Linked DNA regions of Homo sapiens. The protein of the gene in region 2 purifies or fractionates together with the protein of the main gene of each other region. This does not show direct contact. Each region holds a gene or a part of one and is shown on either strand. Other genes may lie near its edges.

The links.
Region 1: the proteins of TRAPPC9 (region 2) and C9orf40 purify together in Homo sapiens (co-immunoprecipitation; one large-scale study listed by IntAct). This does not show direct contact.
Region 3: the proteins of TRAPPC9 (region 2) and RAB3IP purify together in Homo sapiens (tandem affinity purification; 2 studies listed by BioGRID and IntAct, with this or other methods). This does not show direct contact.
Region 4: the proteins of TRAPPC9 (region 2) and LDAF1 purify together in Homo sapiens (co-immunoprecipitation; one large-scale study listed by IntAct). This does not show direct contact.
Region 5: the proteins of TRAPPC9 (region 2) and RAB3IL1 purify together in Homo sapiens (affinity purification with mass spectrometry, with the first as the bait; one large-scale study listed by BioGRID). This does not show direct contact.
Region 6: the proteins of TRAPPC9 (region 2) and HTATIP2 fractionate together in Homo sapiens (co-fractionation; one large-scale study listed by BioGRID). This does not show direct contact.

Annotation. Positions count from the first base shown.
Region 1 is NC_000009.12:74,946,013-74,949,912, forward strand, and holds the end of C9orf40 (uncharacterized protein C9orf40), read right to left. Parts: intron 2,195-3,900; coding exon 2,036-2,194; 3' UTR 571-2,035; downstream 1-570.
Region 2 is NC_000008.11:140,433,723-140,437,292, forward strand, and holds part of TRAPPC9 (trafficking protein particle complex subunit 9), read right to left. Parts: intron 1,519-3,570; coding exon 1,390-1,518; intron 1-1,389. UniProt on the Homo sapiens protein: Functions as an activator of NF-kappa-B through increased phosphorylation of the IKK complex. May function in neuronal cells differentiation. May play a role in vesicular transport from endoplasmic reticulum to Golgi.
Region 3 is NC_000012.12:69,759,353-69,762,922, reverse strand, and holds part of RAB3IP (rab-3A-interacting protein isoform alpha 1), read right to left. Parts: intron 1-3,570. UniProt on the Homo sapiens protein: Guanine nucleotide exchange factor (GEF) which may activate RAB8A and RAB8B. Promotes the exchange of GDP to GTP, converting inactive GDP-bound Rab proteins into their active GTP-bound form.
Region 4 is NC_000016.10:21,178,387-21,181,178, forward strand, and holds the end of LDAF1 (lipid droplet assembly factor 1), read left to right. Parts: exon of another isoform or gene 1-410; coding exon of another isoform or gene 411-426; exon of another isoform or gene 427-546; intron 547-1,088; coding exon 1,089-1,170; 3' UTR 1,171-2,230; downstream 2,231-2,792. UniProt on the Homo sapiens protein: Plays an important role in the formation of lipid droplets (LD) which are storage organelles at the center of lipid and energy homeostasis. In association with BSCL2/seipin, defines the sites of LD formation in the endoplasmic reticulum.
Region 5 is NC_000011.10:61,907,517-61,911,086, reverse strand, and holds part of RAB3IL1 (guanine nucleotide exchange factor for Rab-3A), read left to right. Parts: intron 1-2,780; coding exon 2,781-3,033; intron 3,034-3,426; coding exon 3,427-3,522; intron 3,523-3,570. UniProt on the Homo sapiens protein: Guanine nucleotide exchange factor (GEF) which may activate RAB3A, a GTPase that regulates synaptic vesicle exocytosis. Promotes the exchange of GDP to GTP, converting inactive GDP-bound Rab proteins into their active GTP-bound form.
Region 6 is NC_000011.10:20,380,653-20,384,291, forward strand, and holds the end of HTATIP2 (protein HTATIP2), read left to right. Parts: intron 1-1,525; coding exon 1,526-1,587; intron 1,588-2,327; coding exon 2,328-2,553; 3' UTR 2,554-3,130; downstream 3,131-3,639. UniProt on the Homo sapiens protein: Represses translation by preventing reactivation of elongation factor eEF1A. May also inhibit nuclear import by competing with nuclear import substrates for binding to a subset of nuclear transport receptors.

The DNA.
Region 1 (3,900 bases), on a different chromosome or scaffold from region 2:
TCTGAAGTCATTCTTTCCATGTCCTCAAAATCACACAAGAGAATTTTATCAATGTTAATTTCCTGATTTTCATAAGTGTACTGTGGTAATTTAAGATGTTACATTAGGGAATTGGGGTGAAGGGTTATAACACATTTAAAAACCCACATTTTACCTCAATTTATCCACAATGAAATTTTGCTGTTACCTCAAGTTTACTTAGTAAACAACTTTTTTAAAGGACGGAATTATTTTAACTCTTTCTGTTTTCTATATATAGACTGCCCCTGACTTGATGGTTTGACAGGATTTTTCAGCTTTACCACAGTGTGAAAGTGATATAAATTTAGTACATTTAACTAACCATGGGGTTATGTCCTGATAAACCCATCGTAAGTTGAAAATATCATAAGCTGAAAGTTTCAATTCCAATTTCTATCCTGAAACTTCTAGAGGCAGTTAAAACTTTAACTATAGGCAGCATGTTTATTCTAATGATTTTTTTTAACCTACCTTAAGGTTATTATGAGAACTAAACAAGATGATGCAAGTAAAGTACTTATAACATTGCTTGACAATAAACAGTCTCTCTGAGGTAGATACTATTTATTATTTCTCATTTTACAGGTGAGAAATTTGAGGCTTGGAGATGAAAAATAACTGGCTTAAAGATACATAGGTAGGAAGTGGCAGTACAAGACTTTGAACCATGTCTGACCACAATGCAATACAGTTTGTCTTCTGTTCTAAAGCATTCTTATTAATGTCAACCCATTCTTAAATCCTTCATTACACAAAAAAAATCAAGTTTTTCTCTTTCCCTCTCAATGGCATTTACCATTTGTCTTGAATTTTGGATCTAATGTCATCAACAACAAAAAATGCAAGCAAGAACCAGTTACTCAATTGCAAAACCAACATTCTGGATGCAGTACAAAAGTTAGTTAACTTAATCACTGATACTCACATCACAAATTGCTTACTTTATTTCTTTAACAATGAAATAGTAATAACACAATAATTCAGTTGTAACAAAGCCACCAACAGAGCAAAACAAAAACAAAGCTAATTAAGAAGCATTGCTTCAGCTCAAATTAGTTATCTCCTTTAAACAGGAAAAACGACCATTAGTCTACTGGTTCTCAACCCTGTCTGCACATGAGAGGAATGGAGGGAAACAGGACAGGTGTTTAAAAAAATAGTTATATCCAAGACCCACCTCAGAACTATTAAATGAGAATCTCTCAAGAGTGAGGCCCAGGCAAAGATTTTTAAAGTGCTGTCAGTGTTGAAAACTACAGGTCTAAAGTAATAAGGAATAAAACCATGCCTCGAAGCAATTCAAAACCAAGAAGCTGATTATACAATAAATTTTTTCCTCTAATCCTGGGAAAACAGGGGGAAGCAGGCACCGATTCAGTTTTCATTTTTCTTTATCCATCTTCAGTTGCCCATAGTAGAGCTTAACCAACATCAAATATTGGAAGCTTTGCAAACACGCTACCCAAATTGAAATTATCACTACTTTACATTTAGAAAGCTCTTTTAAAACAATAGCTTTTACAACAATCCCGCCCATCTTAAGTTTGCATAGATGTTCAAGTCAGCTATTTGTTCAACTAACAGAGTCAATAGAATGTATTAGAAAGTACTTTATTAACAAGTTATTATAAAACAATATTCATTTTATATACCACAAATAAACTTTTTGGTGCAGATAGGAGGAATATTTGAGTTTTTCCCACCTATTTCTAAAACTGCTAGAATTTCTTTTTATAAGATCAGTACCTTCAATTCTAGAATTTAAACAAAACTTTTTGCTCTAAGAATGCATACATAAAATACTTCCCCTACAACTGTACTCTATCCTTGACAAATCCTTATTAAGAGGTTCAGTAGTAACTGTAGGTATTTAATGTCAGAACAATCTTTCTTCATTTCTCAGGTTTGGAAATATAACTTCAAGTATGGAAAATAACTTTTCCCTTAAGAATACGAGAATTCACTTAGAGACATCTCCTCAAATCAGCCAATCCCACTGCTTCGGCTCCTTACATCAGGACTCCATGTCAACCTCAGCCCCTTCATTCCTGCCCTGAAGTGTTGCTTCTGTCAGGGTGTCTTCACTTAAATCTTCAATGTCTGCCAGATCAATAGGAGGCAAAGGATTCCTCCAGTACTGGAAGGTATTATACTGCCAAAATTCTTCATTGTGCTTTAGAGAAAAAAGAGAGATCAAAGAGCATCAATAGCTTAGAAAAAATTAAGTTTTTTTCAGAAAACAAATTTGTTTTAAAGGCAAACTCATATAAGATTTTGTAATCTTCTATTTTGTATTTTTAACAAATATACATTTTAAATTTTGTCTCATCTAAGTACTTCATGTACTCGATGAAATCTGTGCATTTTAATATTTACAATTTGTGAAAGTATTTGTTAAATTTAAAGGAATTTCCTCCAAGAGCATCTCTTTCCACAGTTTTTCTCCCATTTTTCACCTAAAGAAAATTATCTAAAAAGTCTTAAAATTTTTTATCTTTCAAGAAGGAAAAGAAGAATTTATTTTAAAAATACAAACACAGACACACTCCTTATAACTTACTTTTGGTCTTGTTCTTAAGGTCTGGTATTTTAGGAGATTTACTTTACATAGGCCAAAATATTTTGAAATCTTCCAAAAAGTATTAGGTTATAAACATGACGAATAGCAAGAAAATGTTAAACTGATCATTTTATTAAAGATAAAAAAAAAATCAATGCTCAGTAGCCACATGACCTAGTGGCTACTGTGCTGGACAGCACAGGTCTGTAAGAAAGTCTCATTAGGAAGTTCACTGTCTTCTATGCTGAGCCTTAAAGAATTAAGTTTTGGGGGAATTTCTTAATATTGGGATAAACACACAATAAGTCAAAAGATATTAAGAAAAATTTCACTTTAATATTTTGGAAAATCTACTGTACAAATTATCTACTTATAAACATGGACCAAAAAAAGGTCTTTTAATTATGTTAGTAAAACATAGTGACTAAGGGCACACAAACTTTGCCACCAGACAGACCTGGGTTTGCAAGATAACTCCACCGCCCACTAACTCTGATCTTGACCTTATTGATAAAATGGAGGACTGTTGTAAAAATTCAGGCTTGGCATAGTAATTGCTCAATATTGCTAGGTATTATATCCCAATAAGCCTATGAATCATTAATCACTGTCTCCTTAGAGCATTTCTGCTTACTTTCTGTTAAGAATATCTAACAGTTGGCTGGGCATGATTACACCTGTAATCCCAGCACTTTGGGAGGCAGAAGGATCGCTTGAGCCCCAGAGTTTGAGACCAGCCCTGGCAACAAAGCAAGACTCCATCTCAATTTATGAAAAACAAACAAATAAACAAGAAACTAACAGTTAACACTGACAGAGCAGTGAATCTACATAGTGACACTAACATGAAAAAAATACATGAATATTTAATGAATACCTGATTTTATTTCTGTAGTCAAAAAACATCTGAAACAGGAAATACCCTGAAGTTCCGGGACAGAAATGACGTAACATTATCCTGCCTAGATTGTATTCTCAATGTAGAAAAAAGGTATTTGAGGTAGTATTTCCTAAATGAAGTCCCAAGGGTGAGGGCTGGGACTTAAGCCCTATTCTGAGCACAAAAGAAACCAGGCATTTACTGTATTGAACTGTTTACTTCTTTTTGTTATATTCAATTTTCCCTTGGTAATCAGGTATAAAATCCTTAAAACAAAAAGCCTGTGTCTTTGGAGGCAGGAAGGAGAAACAGAAGCTGGAGAGAGCATGATTGTAAAAGAGAAGCGCCTCCAGAACAAATCTAACAAAAAGAAGGAATAGGAGTGTTACTGGGCTTTCCTCAAAAGAGGGCCTGACAGTGGCTCACGCCTGTAATCCCA
Region 2 (3,570 bases):
AAAAAATCAAAATTTTCTCAATCACAAAAAAGATAAGCCTGAGGCAGAAGAATAGGATCTAGAGGCAAAGAACTTAAGGTTGTTTCACACAGACTTCCTACAACTACATTGAAAGGAAAACCCTAACTTTCCATGACTAAGTAACAAAAGGACCAGAGGCTGCTCCCTTTGACCTTTTCTGCATGGCAGGTGGGAAACTGGCTGTCCGGAACCACTCAGACTGATTGCTGGTGGAGTCTTAGTTTGCAGAGAAGTATAACTTTGTCTACTTTTCATTTGCATAGAAGCATAACTTTGTAACTTCACCTTAGCCTCTGAGTGGCTGCTTTCCGCAACCAATCAGACTAACTGCAGGCTACCACTTCATTTACAAGAGGTGAGCATGAAGTGGCCAATGGGAAACTTCTAGTGGGTATTTAGACCCAAGAAGATTCTGTATCCGTGCCCTTGAGCCCGCTGCTCGGCCCACTCCCACACTGTGGAGTGTACTTTCGTTTTCAATAAATCCCTGCTTTCATTATTTTGTTGCTTCCTTCTTTGTGACCTATGCAACATGATGACTAAATCCTGAGCCATTAAAGGCAGGTTCATTCATCAAGGACCAAAACGTTCATGTTCATTCAGCATTCGTGGGTCTGCTCTACCCAAGAAGTTTTCTCACTCTTCATTGGTTCTACCAAGCATAAGCAAATCAAACAACTCATTGAGAGAATGTCATCAGCCAATAAAATAAGAAACTGCTCCCAGGCCCTGAATCAGCTTATTAAAATTGACCTCTGGGACTAGCTTCTCCTAATACATAAAATTATAAAAAAGACTTAGACACAGAACCTCAAGTCTGTTCTACCAGGAAATTTTACACAAGTATTCCAGAAATCAACCAATCATTCTAACCCATTAGTGGTATTCAGTAAGATTGAAAGTATTCAATAAAATCAGAACAAAATGTCTCATACAAGATTTCTGGGCAGGGCATGGTGGCTCACGCCTGTAATCCCAGCACTTTGGGAGGCCGAGGCGGGTGGATCACGAGGTCAAGCATTCGAGACCAGCCTGGCCAACATAGTGAAACCCCGCCTCTATTAAAAATACAAAAAATTAGCCATGTGTGGTGGCGGGCGCCTGTAATCCCAACTAGTCAGGAGGCTGAGGGAGGAGAATTGCTTGAACCTGGGAGGTGGAGGCTGTGGTGAGCCGAGATTGCGCCACTGCACTCCAGCCCGGGCAACAGTGCAAGACTCTGTCTCAAAAAAAAAAAAAAATTACTGACTCAACAGATTTTACAGTTTATTTAAATATTAGTCCTAACTCAAAGGAAAAAGTAACAAATGAGTCTGCTTTATTTAAAGACTGCAAGTGAGCAGAGGCCGGAAAAAGGGCAGAGCTCACCTGGCCGGTGTCTATTGGCTGCTTCAGCAGGAAGGGTGCTGCCCTGGAACCTCCGAGCTCCACTCTTCCCACCAGTTCCACCAGGATAGTGATAGATGACAGAAGCTGAACACAATCCTTCCAGGGCAGCTGGGCATTAAGAAAACAAAAAACAAAAACCAGAAAACAAAAAACAAAAACCAGCATCATTAGTCAAGTCAGTGACCCTTCATTAGCTCAAACTGCAGTAACTAACAATGATTTAAACAGGTGGATTATTTGGAAATGCCAATTTTTCTCCCAAAACAAAGATCAAACCTAAAGATCACTAGTTTTTTGCAAATGGGAACTTGCCACCTGTCTTTCCCATGCCCATGTCCAGGCAGGCAATGCAGAACACTCTCACCACACTCAAGGTTTCCCTGCAGGGCTGACTGCACACGTAAAACAGGCCAGCCTCTGCGTTCATCCATTCACGTGGCCGGCATTCCTGCACAAACTGTGTGGCAGACTGCGCCAGGTTCTGGAGCTACAGAGATGTATAACAGAAAGTGCCCTGGATTGAAAATATTTCACAGTAATAGCACCAAAGCAAGACCAGAATGCCTTTCCAGACCATGCACCCCATAGGCATCTGCTCCTTTTGAGGTTGTAGTCCTCCCTCTTCCTCAAAAACAGCCATATTAACTCGCTACACAGTCCGTTCTTCTCTCATGACGTAACAACCTAATAATCTCCAGCTATGCCACATGCCTTAGAAGGTGTGCCACAGTATTCATCTCTATCATCTTTATCCATTAACTCAGTGCTCCTTAAACTTTTGGTCTAAAAACTCCTTGATGCTCTTAAAAATGACTTAGGATCACAAAGAGCTTTTTTTGTGATGTGGGTTACACCTGTAGATATTTACCATATTGGAAAATAAAACTGAGAAAAGGATTTAAGTATTTATGTATTAATTCCTCTTAAAATAGGCCAGACGCAGTGGCTCATGCCAGTAATCCCAGCACTTTGGGAAGCCAAGGTGGGTGGATCACTTGAGGTCAGGAGTTCAAGACCAGCCTGGCCAACATGGTGAAACCCTGACTCTACTAAAAATACAAAAATTGGCCAGGCATGATAAAACACACCTGTAGCCCCAGCTACTCGGGAGGCTGAGGCAAGAGAATCGCTTGAACCTGGGAAATGGAAGTTTCAGTGAGCTGAAATCACGCCATTGCACTCCAGCCTGGGCGACAGAGTGAGACTGACTCAAAAAAATAAAAATAAAAAATAAAATAATAAGCTTGTCATGTGTTAACAGTTTTATGAAAAATAATTGTTTTCCAAAACAAAAATAAAGTACTGGAGGAATGGCATTATTTGACATGTTCACACATTTCTTTAATATCAGAGTTAATACAAGTCAGCTGGATCTTCTATCAGCTTCTACATTCAGTCTGCTGTGATGTCAGGCCTAAGTAGCTTGTGGACAACTCCACTGTCCACTTCTGAGAGGCTGAGCATGGAAGAGGCCCACGGCACACAGCACCGTCCTTCTCTGTGTGCCCTTTAGGAGCCCTCCTCATCCAGTCCAGCGCCGCATGGGGAAGGCATATGGGCAGTACCAGTCTTTCTGGAGAAGCACCTGCTGCACATGCCCTAGTCTCAGAGCCCACTGGGAGATGCACAGATTCTCTAATTGATACAATAAGGAGTACTTAGGGAGACAATGCTCTTTCAAGAAAACCAAGTAAAACTATGTCTTTCTCAGCCTGCATAATCCTTTATCTGATTCTCTTTTCTTTTCCATCCCTAATTCTTACTCCCTTTCTTTCCCCACTTCTATTTCCCTAGCCTCTTTAAAAAACTAAATTTAAGTCCATTTTAAGTTTTATTTTGGTTTTTTCTTAAGAGACAAAGTCTCACTCTTGCTCAGGATGGAGTGCAGTGGTGCGATCGTGGCTCACTGCAGCCTTGACCTCCTGAGCCCAAGCGATCCTCCTGCCTCACCCTCACAAGTAGCTGGGACTACAGGCACAGACCACCAAGCCCAGCTAATGTCTTTTTATTTTATTTTATTTTATTTTATTTTGGTAGAAGTGAGGTCTCCCTATGTTGCTCAGGCTGGTCTCCACCCAGTTAATGTTTTTTAATTTTGTTTTGTAGAAGTGAGGTGAAGTAAGATTTTTTTATTTTTTATTTTTTGTAGAAGTGTTGGGA
Region 3 (3,570 bases), on a different chromosome or scaffold from region 2:
TGGCTACAGTTAGTAGAACCAATACTGAATAGGGTTAGTGCAAGTATGTGATTTTCAATGACTCTCTTTGCAAGCTATCCTACTGGGCTTTATTTTCTAAGTCATTTCATTTTCTTTTTCTTTTTCTCTTTTTCTCTTTTTTCTTTTTTTTTTTTTTTTTTTTTTTGAGACGGAGTCTCCCTCTGTTGCCTAGGCTGGAGTGCAGTGGCGCAATCTCAGCTCACTGCAAGCTCCACCTCCTGGGTTCACGCCAGTCTCCTGCCTCAGCCTCCCAAGCAGCTGGGACTACAGGCGTCTGCCACCACACCTGGCTAATTTTTTGTATTTTTAGTAGAGAAGCGGTTTCACCGTGTTAGCCAGGATGGTCTCGATCTCCTAACCTGGTGATCTGCCCGCCTCGGCCTCCCAAAGTGCTGGGACTACAGGCGTGAGCCACTTCGCCCAGCTCATTTTCTTTTAAGAAAAATAAAAGTTTAAAATAACCTCTTACAGCAGATTTCACCTTTTAGTGAATGTAAGAATCAACAAGTTTGATGAAAATGCATATTCCCAAACCTCAACACAATAATTTGATTTCAGCAGATCTGGAGTAGAGTGCAAGGATCTATACTTAATAAGAATGCACTAAAGCCCAATTTCCTCCTGAGAATTCCACTAAAAGCTGCTCTTCAGAAATATCCTATGGAAGGCCAAACAGCTAAATGACTACATCATAATCTCTGGCATCCCTGCACCTGAAAATAAGTGACCACATGATTGGTCCCCCTACACACACAGTATGGATTTGTTGCTGGGAAGTGGTTGTCCATCCAGGGATTACATTACCCAGCCCACCATACATCTAGGTATTGGCATGAAAGGTTCACACCAATAGAATGTGAGCAAAAGTGATGTGTATCATATCTAAGCCAAGGTTTTTTAGAAGAAGCTGTACCTTCTCTAAGCTGTCTTTCCCTTTTGTCTCATTGGTTAGATACAAATAACAATAAAACCCTAAGAAATTACAAAGGCCCCAAACAGAAGAGAAACAGATCTCTGAATTATTTCACAGAGAACTGCCTACCAACTATGAACATCTGCTTCAGAGTGTTAAATGAATAAAAATGAACTTCTATTAGGTAAAGTCACGAAAATTTGGGGGTTACTTATAAGCATCACCCTAATATATCAGGCATGTGTGTATACAAACACTTGTATAACCGCATATACATGTATATATTCATTTAATCAACAAAATGTATTGAAAACCCATTATATGCTCAAGATATAATCATGAGCACAAACATATGCAATCCTTATCCTCATGAATCTCAGAAGTACTGAAGCATGTGTGTATAAATGCAGGTTTTTCTATGTGGATTACTTGAATGGGGTAGACAATGAAGTAATATAAATGAGTAAGTAGAACTTTCACTTCCAATTAAGATAGAGGAACAGGGATTAGATTTACCACCCATCTGACACAACTAAAACTCTGAAAAAATATATGGATCAACAATTTGAAGCATTTGATATTAGGCAATAAAAGACAGTGATCCCCTAGAAATGAAAAACAAAATGTGCACCCCAGATCTGCCCCAGCTTATTATCTGAAGAGATGAAATAATTAGAAACAAAACATTTATTAAACTGCATCCCAACATATTAAGCAGAGCAAGCAAAGTATAAAAAAGATCCAAATCAAACTTTCAGAGATGAAAACTACAATGTCTAGTTTAAAAACATACTGTATGGGATTAACAGATTAGATATTTCAGAAGAAAAGAGTAGTGACTTTGAAGACATAGCAATAGAAACTACCCACAATGAAACACAGTGAGGAAAAAAAGATTTTTAAATGAAAGACTGTAACACCAGCAAGCTGTGAGATAAGTTTAAGCAGTCTAATGTACATGTAATAGGAATCCAGAGGAAAGGAGAGAGAGAGGAAGAATGGAAAACTTTTTGAAGATATAAAGGCCAAAATTTCCCAAATTTTATGAAAACTAACAACCTACAGCTTCAAGAAGCTCAATAAATCCCAAACATAAGAAAGCTGAAGAAACTACACCAAAGCAAATCACAATCACATTGCTTATGCCAGTGAGAGAGGACTCTCATAAGCAGCCAGAGAGAAAAGACCTAATACGCAGAGGAACAAAGGTAAGGGTAACAGCAGACTTCTTGTGAGAAACAATGTACATGCTTGAAAACACTGAAGCAACATCTTTACAGTAACAAAAAAAAAAAAATTATCAATCTTAAATTCTTTACTCAGTGAAAATATCTTTCAAAAACCAAAAATGAACACAGACATACAAAAGCTAAAAGAATTTATCACCATCAAACATGCACAACAAAAATGTAAAAGGATGTCCTTCAAGCCAAAGGAAAAATGATACGAGTTGGAAATCTGGATCCACATGAAGAAATGAATACCAAAGGAATGAACACACAGAGCAAGTCCCCAAACGGATCCTGAGCAAGAGGAGAGTTGGAGGCTCTCCCTCTCCCTCTCCCTCTCCCCACAGTCTCCCTCTCCCTCTCCCCACGGTCTCCCTCGCCCTCTCTTTCCACGGTCTCCCTCTGATGCCGAGCCAAAGCTGGACTGTACTGCTGCCATCTTGGCTCACTGCAACCTCCCTGCCTGATTCTCCTGCCTCAGCCTGCCGAGTGCCTGCTATTGCAGGCGCACGCCGCCACGCCTGACTGGTTTTCGTATTTTTTTGGTGGAGACGGGGTTTCGCTGTGTTGGCCGGGCTGGTCTCCAGCTCCTAACCGTGAGTGATCCGCCAGCCTCGGCCTCCCGAGGTGCCGGGATTGCAGACGGAGTCTCATTCACTCAGGGCTCAATGTTGCCCAGGCTGGAGTGCAGTGGCATGATCTCGGCTAGCTACAACCTCCACCTCCCAGCCGCCTGCCTTGGCCTCCCAAAGTGACGAGATTGCAGCCTCTGCCCGGCCGCCACCCCGTCTGGGAAGTGAGGAGCGTCTCTGCCCGGCCACCCATCGTCTGAGATGTGGGGAGCGCCTCTGTCCAGCCGCGACCCCGTCTGGGAGGTGAGGAGCGTCTCTGCCCGGCAGCCCCGTCTGAGAAGTGAGGAGCCCCTCCGCCCGGCAGCCGCCCCGTCCGGGAGGGAGGTGGGAGGTCAGCCCCCGCCCGGCCAGCCGCCCCATCCGGGAGGGAGGTGGGGGGTCAGCCCCCGCCCGGCAGCCGCCCCGTCCGGGAGGGAGGTGGGGGGTCAGCCCCTGCCCGGCCAGCCGCCCCGTCCGGGAGGTGGGGGTTCAGCCCCCGCCCAGCCAGCCGCCCCGTCCAGGAGGGAGGTGGGGGGCGCCTCCGCCCGGCCGCCGCCCCGTCCGGGAGGTCGGAGGCGCCTCTGCCCGGCCGCCCCTTCTGGGAAGTGAGGAGCTCCTCTGCCCGGCCACCACCCCGTCTGGGAGGTGTACCCAACAGCTCATTGAGAACGGGCCATGATGACGATGGCGGTTTTGTGGAATAGAAAAGGGGGAAAGGTGGGGAAAAGATAGAGAAATCAGATTGTTGCTGTGTCTGTGTAGAAAGAAGTAGACATAGGAGACTTCATTTTGTTCT
Region 4 (2,792 bases), on a different chromosome or scaffold from region 2:
TTAGTTTTTTGTTATCAGGGAGGAATGGTTTAGGTGGCAAATAATGAAAAAAACCAAAGTAGATACTAGTTTAAACACACAGGGAACTTTTTTTTATTGCTTAATGAAAAACTGGAGACAGCCCAGGGCTGGTGCAGCCAGTGTGGTATCAACATACCAGGCACCTTTTGCCTTCCTGTGTTGCTATCCTTAGCCCATTGGTTTCCTACCTTATGGCCACAAGATAGCTGCTGCAGCTCCAGATCTACCAGCTACCTTCAAGGCAGCAGAAAAGGAGAAAAAAATGGAGTCTGACCCTTTTAAAAATGTGAATAAAATATTTCCCAGGACCTCTCACCACTATACTTCAAAAGACTTCATTGACTAGAACTTTGTCAGATGGCCGCTGGTTGCTGTTCTCCTGATTGTAGGTCTCACGAGATCTGATGGTTTTATAAAGGGCATTTCCCCTGCACATGCTCTCTTGCCTGCCGCCATGTAAGAAGTGCCTCTGATCTTCCTTTGCCTTCCACCATGATTGTGAGGCCTCCCCAGCCATGTGGAATTGTGAGTCCATGAAACCTCTTTTTCTTTATAAATTACCCAGTCTCAGGTCTTTATTAGCAACATAAGAACGGACTAATACAATCCTCCCCCGAACTCCTTTCCATGGAAGGTGTCAAGAAACTAATTGAAATCAGAAGATATGGTCTGAATCCCCGCCCTGCCATGTTTTCAGCTGTGTGGTCTTGAACGGGCTGCTTGACTTCTCTGATTTCAGTTTTTGTCCATTGGTAAAATAGACAAAATGGCTACTCTTAATCTACCATTCTCACTGGGTTGTTGTGAGGACACAGATAATTAAGAAAAACATAATAAATATCCAAATTAGAAAATGGAAAAGGGGCCGTAACCCTACTCCTAACCTGGTCATTTTAACCTCCTGTGCCCTCAGTTTCTTCATCTGTATAATGGACATAGGCCTGGTGTGGTTGCAAGAAGCAGCTAAAAATCAGGAAAAAGAACATCATGTATTCAGCTATGCACACTTCCAACGTTGCTCTTTACTGAGGCCCTAGAGCTAACGATCTCTTCTTGTTATCCGACAGGCCACTGACACAGCAAAACACCAGTTGTGACTTTCTGCCAGCCATGAAGTCTGCAGAATTCGAGGGGCTTTACCAGGAATGAGTGACTGCTCAGAGGCCGGGCTTCTTTTCAAGTACTGCTGGATCATACTCACCCCTTGGGATTATGGCTTAGAAGAAGGGGGCTGGGTAGGCAAGCACTCCTTGGCTGTGTCCTCTCGCTTTTTCACTTACTTGTAGGATCCCGCAGCAGCCAATTTAGGGATTGTGTTGTTCTTGTGTTGGTTCCCATGTAAAGAAGCAGCAGAGAAATGCGATGGTTCAACAGCTCGCCCTGCCCCAAGTATGCAGACTTGACCTTGGCGGGGTCCTGGGCTTCTAGAGTCTAGCCCGTTGACCCCAAAGCCTCAGGGCTTATGTCCAACGGTCCCATTGGGAGCAACAGTGATTGTTTATAGTTTTTTGTTTTCAGAAATGAGGGCAGCTGTTAATTTTTTCACTCATGTGAAACAAAATGAAAAAAAAAATCCAAAACAGAACAAGCCCTTCTGTGGTATTTGCTTTTTATCAGAAAGAACAGCAACATTTGGCCTCTCCAAGTTGGAAAATAGAGTCCAAATGTAACTTTGTGGCCAAGAGTATTTTCAAAAAAGTCTAAAGGTGTAGTTTCCACTGTAACTGTTGAGTACTGTTAAGTACTGTTAATCTTTTACATATTTGCACTTGGTACTGTTGTATTGTTCTAAAGAGCTTGTCCTTTAAGTAATTTCTTTCTTTTTTTTTTTTTTTTTTTTTTGTGACGGAGTTTCCCTCTTGTTGCCCAGGCTGGAGTGCAATGGTGCAGTCTCGGCTCACTGCAACCTCCAACTCCCAGGTTCAAGTGAGTCTCGTGCCTCAGCCTCCCAAGTAGCTGGGATTACAGGCACCCGCCACCGTGCCCGGCTAGTTTTTTTTTGTATTTTTTTTAGTACAGATGGGGTTTCACCATGTTGGTCAGGCTAGTCTCAAACTCCTGACCTCAGGTGCTCCACCTGCCTTGGCCTCCCAAAGTGCTGGGATTACAGGCGTGAGCCACTGTGCCCAGCCTAAGCCATTTCTTAAAATAAAAATGCTAAAGGACTAGTAAGTAAAAATAAAACTTCCTATGGGATTTCCCAGTGGAATTACTGAGTGGTTTATTTGCGTGGCATTTCATTAAATATTTATTTGGGTGGGCTTTTTTTCTTTACTCTTTTTCCCTTCTGCTCCATACATCAGACCTGCCTATTCCTCTGTCGATTTCATGACTGGTGCTGGGTAATAGGGATTTTTTTAGTTGCTCGCAATAGACACCCAATTCCACATTACTTTAAAAAGAGGGGTGGTAGGGAGAAGGATTAGTTTCACTCAACCAAAAAGCCAAGGGGTAGATCTTGAGGTGCTGCTGATTCCAGGGGCTCAGGTGGTGTCATTAAGCATCTCTCACCCCTCATCTCTCAGTATAGCTTTCCTCAGTGTGAGCTGCTTTTGCAGGCAGGCCCGCCACCCCTTTCGGAGGTCCCAGGAGCTCCATCCTGGGCAAGAAAACTGCTTTTTTCCAACAGTATATACAAATATTCTGGGTTTGGCTCTGATTGGATAGACTTGGGTCATGTGAGCGACCCCAGACCAATCATGGTGGCTAGGAGGATGGGATATGCAGATGGGACAGGGCTGGGATGGTGGCCATTCAAGAAACAGGGGAGG
Region 5 (3,570 bases), on a different chromosome or scaffold from region 2:
GGAAAATGGTGAGGTCAGCCAGCCACACCTCCAGCCTATGTGCTTGGGACCAGCAGGAGAGAGAGTTAGTCTTTCACTGTGGCCAGAGGCCCAGACCACACTGGTGGATGAAGCTCGGCCCCCATGGGAGGGCCGGCAGCCTGGTTCTCCTCGGTCAGGGCATAGGCAATTGCAAGAGTCCTCTGTCCTGTCCTGTGCTGTCACCTCTTGCCCTTGGCCTGCAGTGAGCAGCCCCCAGCCCAGCCTGAGTGACTATGGCCATCCTGTCCTACCTGAGGACTTGGGCCATGATGATTAAGGTGGGGACACATATCCATCACTCCATCAACAGTGTCTGTGCCAGACAGGGCTCTCAATACCCTTGTTCGGGGAAGTCTTCTTGGCAAGGGTCCACAGGCCTCCAGTTTAAGCTGTGGGACCCAGAGCCCAGGCAGGCTTCGTGAGTGTCTCAGCCAAACATGGCTGTGGATTGAACATGATTCACCCAGCACCAGGTCAGGACTGCTCTTAGAGCTCTTGATTCTTAGAGCACCTCCTGCAGGATTTCAGCTCCTATCCCTCAGGTGCAGAAGCAGGTTCAGAAAATTTCAGTAGCATTCTCAGGGGCTCATGTGTACCCCAGGTCAGAGGCTGACATGGACCCCAGGCTTGCCCCATCTGGCCTGTTCTCTCTGCCACAGCTCCCCCTGCCCAGGCCCTGCCTTCTGGAAAGGGGGTTTCTGGGCCTGCGCAGAGTCTGAGAAGCCAGTTCGGGCCAGAATTGGGTCAGATTTCCCTACTGCAGCCAAAGAGGAGCCTCCGAGTCTCCCTGGGCCCAGCAGCGCTTTATCTTGAAGCAGATGCGCCGATTCCAACACTCACACTCCGCACCCACCTGCCCTTCCCCTGCAGCGGGGAAGCTTTGGGCCTGGGCTTGAAGACCTGGCCACCTGTCCCAGCACTGTCACTGACCAGCTGCGTGACCCCTGACAAGTCCCTTCACTCTGTGAGCCTCCGTCCCCTCATCTGTAGAATGGGACAATACCACGAGTGCTGTTGAGAGAGTTTTATGTTTGTTTGTTTGTTTTGAGACAGAGTTTCGCTCTGTCACCCAGGCTGGAGTGCAGTGGCACAATCTTGGCCCGGCTAATTTTTGTATTTTTAGCAGAGATGGGGTTTCACCATGTTGACCAGGCTGGTCTCGAACTCTTGACCTCAGGTGATCCACCTGCCTCAGCCTCCCAAAGTGCTGGGATTACAGGCGTGAGCCACTGCACCCAGCTGCTGTTGAGAGAATTTTAAAGGAGACAGCGTGGTCAGAGACCTGTGGAAGAGTCTGGCAGAGTGAGTCCCCAGGGCACAGACCCCAGCCCAGGGCTCCGCCATAGCTCTCAGGCTGCGGGGAACCCTTGCCAACAAGACTTCCCCAAACAGGAGTATTAGGAGAGAGCCCTGTCTGGCATAGACACTGTTGATGGAGTGATGGATATGTGTCCCCACCTTAATCCTCAAGACCCACATCCCTGCCAGGCAGGACCCAGCTTGAGGAGCCTTGAGGCCACACTCTGGGCCGGTTCCAGAGCAGAGGGCAGGTGGGGCTGGGCAGCTGGACCGGGCTGTGTGAAGGGACTCATTGCTGGAAGTGGGCTCCTTGCAGGAGTCTCTGGGGGCCCATTTTCTGTGTGTTAACCAAGGGAGAAACTGAGGCTCAGGGGCTGCTTGGTGACCTTCCCAAGGTCCTGAGGACAGGGAGGGGAGACTGGTCCACAGACTTGCCTCTCACTCCTCCCTCTGCCTCAGCCGTCCTGAGTCCCACTTTCTCCTTGGCCTTGCCTTCCCCCTCTGGTGCAGCCTCCCTGAGCCCCTCCCCCCAACTTCCCTCACTGATATCAGTGGCCCGCCCAGCCCCCCATCCCCAGCCCTGGTTGCTGCGGCTCAGAAGCTGCTGGCTCAGGAGCCTCCAGCTTTTGCTGAGTGAGCGAGTCCAGAGGTGCTGTCTTGGCACAAAACACCGCTGGCCGGGCCCTCGCCCTCCCTTCCCTCTCCAGGGTCCACTTTGGAGTGGAGAGTGTGGGTGGGGGCGGAATGAGGCCTCACACCACCTCCAGGGTCTTCAGCTTCAGGGAAGGGAGGGTCCTGAGGCCCAGAGAAGGGGGTGTTTGCCTGAGGTCACAAGGCAGGCCAGGGGAGAGCTGGGACTGCTCCCCACCAAGTCCAGGGGGACAGGAAGTGGGTCTGTCTTGTCCAAGCTGTTTGCAGAATCTTCCTGCCTCAGCCCTGCCTGCCCTGGCCTCATCCTTCCTCTCTGGTCCACCCTGAAAGGGGCAGAATTCGCATTAACTGTATCAGTGAAGGCAGCTCCTGCTTGAGTGCATCCGAGGTGTCAAGGTTTTACCCACACCTCCTCTGATCATTCAGTGACCTTTGAGGTAGGGCCATTGGAATAGGCTTCACTTAATACAAGTGGGACTCAACCCTGATGCATTTACAGTCACCTGTTAGACAAAGACGCTGACCACCTACTGTGTGCTGAGCACCTACTGCATGTGCCAAACACAGCCCTCAGCCCTGGGCTGGAAGGGGTGGTTGACAAAGAGTAATAAGCCTCTTGCCCCAAGAGACTTTGTGCTTGGACATTTGCCCTTGTAACAACACTGATGATAGCTGGTAGGGTCCCAGTTTTCAGATGGAAAGGCTGAGGCTCAAGTGGCAGGCACATTGCCCCGGGGCGGTTTCTGGACTCAGCTCTCCAGGCCTCAGGACCCCACCCTGAACCTGCTGATACCCTTGTTTGTCTCCAGCCCACCCCAGCCAGACCAGGGCCTCCCGCCGCCCCTTGCAGCTGTCCCGGTCCCCTGGAAGAGCACGGACCCCTGCCAAGGCCACAGGGAGTCCCCAGGAGCCCTGGTGGAGACCTCTGCAGGGGAGGAGGCCCAAGGCCAGGAGGGCCCCGCAGCCGCCCAGCTGGACGTGTTGCGCCTGCGCAGCTCTTCCATGGAGATCCGAGAGAAGGGCTCCGAGTTCCTGAAGGAGGAGCTGCACAGAGCGCAGAAGGTGGGTGCCTGCAGTAGGCTGGGGGGTCTTCGGTGGGGAGAAGTCAGGTTGGGAGAGCTGTGGGCTCTCATCAGGTGCCCAGAGATGTGCCCAAGGGAGAGGGATGTGCCCTCACCGAGGCCAGCTGCTGGCCAGGCCTGTACTGGGCGCACCGATGGTCACCCGTCTTGACTGCAAACGTGCCCTGAGCTCTGATGAACTGGCAGGCAGGGCTTCAGCTTCATGCTGTGGCTAAACGGAAAAAGCATCACAAACTGTCAGGCACCAGAGGAAATAAACTCTGAGCCCCACATAAAATGACGAGGGGATGGAACCTGGTCCGGTGGGCCTGGTCCCTCCCGTGCCAGGCCTGGGGATGCTGAGGTGCTCAAGTGCCTGCCTCTTTTCCTCCAGGAGCTGAAGCTAAAGGACGAGGAATGTGAGCGGCTGTCCAAGGTGCGGGAGCAGCTAGAACAGGAGCTGGAAGAGCTGACGGCCAGCCTGTTTGAGGTACACCGGCTGGGCGCGGGAACAACTTGGGGAATGGGTCATCTGGGC
Region 6 (3,639 bases), on a different chromosome or scaffold from region 2:
CAGAGTGAGACTCCATCTCAAAAAAAAAAAAAAAAAAAAGCTAAGAAATGTGTGTACACATAAAATCTTGTGTATGACTGTTCATAGCAGCATTATTTATAATGGCCAAAGAGTGGGAACAACCTAGATAGCCATCGACTGATGAATAGATGAATAAAATGTGATATATTCATGCAATAGAATATTATTCAGCTATAAAAAGAAATGATACATACTACAACATGGGTGAACCTTGAAAATATTATGCTAAGTGTGAGGAGACAGTCACAAAAGACCACGAATTATATGATTTCATTTATATGAAATGTCCAGAATAGGCAAATCTATAGAGATAGAAGGTACATTAGTGGTTGACTAGGTCCCCAGAGGGTAGGGTACGAGGAGTGACTGCTAATGATATGGGATTTCTTTTCAGGGTGATGAAATATTTTAAAACTTAGATCGTGATGAAGGTTACAGAGTTCTGTGTATATACTAAAAACCACCTATTAAAAAAAAAAGAATGGCCAAGCGCGGTGGCTCTCGCCTGTAATCCCAGCACTTTGGGAGGCTGAGGCGGGTGGATCACTTGAGGTCAGGAGTTCGAGACCAGCCTGGTCAACATGGTGACAACCCCGTCACTACTAAAAATACAAAAATTAGCCAGGCATAATGGCGGATGCCTGTAATCCCAGCTACTTGGGAGGCCGAGGCAGGAGAATTGCTTGAACCTGGGAGGTGGAAGTTGCAGTGAGCCAAGATCATGCCCTTGCACTTCAGCCTAGGTGACATGGTGAGACTCTATCACACACAAAAAATACATAAATAAATAAATAATTAAAATTAAAAAATTTTTAAAAAGAAAAAGATATTTAAAAATAGCTACTTAAATGTCTGTGATGAGACAGGTTAAGTGCCAATTGAGTGGTACACACAGGCCAAGAAGGAGGCGTGCATGACCGTGTGGTAGTTCACAGGCCTTTGGAAGTGCCTGTGGGCTGAGCTCCTCAGGCATTTTGTTTCCAGAGATGCCTGCCATGAAAATGCATGCTTTATTTAACAAATTAGATTTAAAGCATCATCTAGATGTAATCTGTCTTAAAATTTTGTGAGGTTTAAGAAGTGAGTAATATAGTGGGTCTATGGTTTTCTGACCCACTGGAACTACCTATAAACCAAAAAAACGTTAGTGTCTGCTAGCATGCAACATGAATTCTGGACTAAATAGAGGATATTCTTTTATGATTGTACTAACGTATGACTTACCCTCTCTGAATCTGTTTTAATATCAATAAAGTGAGAGGACTGACTATGCAGCCATTCACTCATTTAGTGGATCTTTTAAATGAAAGACTACACATCAGGATTAAATGATCTCTTCCTTAATTTCCCAGACTCCTTGGAACCTAAAATTCTAGATAAGGATATTTTGAGTATTGAGATCTGCAAAAGCAGATTATCTCAAAACCACAAATTATTCTCTCTTAAACTTCACACAGGTGAGCTGGTCGCGATTAAATACTGAAAATGTGTTTTTTCTTAATAGGGAGAAGTAGAAGCCAAGGTTGAAGAATTAAAATTTGATCGTTACTCTGTATTTAGGCCTGGGTAAGTATAATATTTATACTGAATGAGAGTATGCCACTGATGGTTAATCCCTAGATACTAATTTTTCATTTGGAAAGGCTGACAGCTGAAATATCTAAGATATGAAAGACATTGGCTAGAGGTAGATTGCTTCTCTGAAGGACACACCTTTTTGCTTAGAAAGAAAGGGTAGATGGTGGGGCCTGCTTCAGAATAGTCTGGAACTTCCTGGACAGCATTTGCTGCCTTCTTAAATCCTCTTCATGTGCCAAATAAAACCTTACGTCTACTGTATTAGTCTGCTTGGGTTGCCATAACAGAATACCACACAGATTGGGTGTCTTAAACAACAGAAATTTTTTTTCACGCAGTCTGGAGATTGGAAGTCCAAGATCAAGGTGCCCTCAGGGTTGGTGTCCGGTGAGGCCTCTTTTCCTGGCTGGCAGACAGACCACCTTCTGGCAGTGTCCTCACATGGCCTTTCTTCTTAGTGTATGCAGACAGAGAGAGACCTCTGATGTCTCTTCCTCTTATGAGGACCCCAGTCCCATCACACTAGTCCTATTCCATCCTTAAGACCTCATTAAACTTAATTACTTCCCTTAATGCCTTATCTTCAAATATAGACACCTTGGGGATTAGGGCTTCAACATTAGAATATTGAGGGGATACAGTTTTGTCCGTAATGCCCACTGTGGTCTCAGTGCAATTTACCACCTCTTCCTCTGCTTTTCTTTCTTTTTTTTTTTTTTTTATTTTAGAGTTCTGTTATGTGATAGGCAAGAATCTCGCCCAGGTGAATGGCTGGTTAGAAAGTTCTTTGGCTCCTTACCAGACTCTTGGGCCAGTGGGCATTCTGTGCCTGTGGTGACCGTGGTTAGAGCAATGCTGAACAATGTGGTGAGACCAAGAGACAAGCAGATGGAACTGCTGGAGAACAAGGCCATCCATGACCTGGGGAAAGCGCATGGCTCTCTCAAGCCATGACCACATTGGAGAAATGGTTTTTATTGTCAACCTTAACACCCATCACCAAATCGGTAATTTCAGGGTCTAAAAAAAGTCAGCATGTTTTAACTTTGTTGTTTTACTATCCTCAGGCATCCATTCCAATCAAGAAATGATGGTGCTCTGCATCAGTGGTTCAGAGCCTGGTTATACATATAGATCACTCAGGGAGCTTTGGAAAAATAAAGATTTGTCAGCCCTATCTCAAACTTGAATCAAAATTTCTGGGGTGTGGGCACAATAATCTGTAATTTTCTTTGTTTATACTTCCCCTGATGCCACTGGTTCCGATGCCACTGGCTGGGGGGCCTGCTTTGAAATGCTTGTCTGCAGAGTCACAGCAGCCATGAAAACCTTATGACCGTGCAAATGAGCTCTGCTCTAAAATTGTTGACATTCATGTCTCTGAGTTACAAAAGTGCTAATTCACTACATGTAATTGTGTAAGTAAACATTGTGCCTTTACTACTTCTTTATGTAATAGAAGTTATATACCTAAGCTTATATAATACATGGGGAGGATTAAATAAAGGAATAAAGATGAATGGACAACTCCTGGGTGCCTCTTAGATTGCTTGAAAATGCCCATGTAGTGTGATATGCAGCATTTCAGCCTATGGGGTGATATAATAGCAGCTAATATTTACCAAATGCTTGCTAAGTACCAGTCTTTACATGTGTTATCTGTGCTTTAACCCTCTTATAAACAATCCTTATAAAGTGATACTATCATGATCTTCATGTCTTAGATGGGGAAATGAGGCTCACTGTGGTTAAGTGCCTTGCTCAAGAGTCCAAATCTGAAGAACTGAAGCAAAGAAATGGCAGAGTCAGGATTCTAACCCAGGTCTGCCTGATCCCATAGATCCCATATATCGTGTTTTTAAGCACCCTGCAAAAGCATTCTGTTCCCGTATATTTCCAGGTAGTTCCAGTTGATTGTTACTACATGTTGTGGATGAACAAAATCGAAATATTTGGGTTTCTCCTTTGTTCTAGTGATTAATTACTAAATGTTCACATAGCCAGTAAAATTCTATGCCACCAAACTTTAAAGTGCTCATG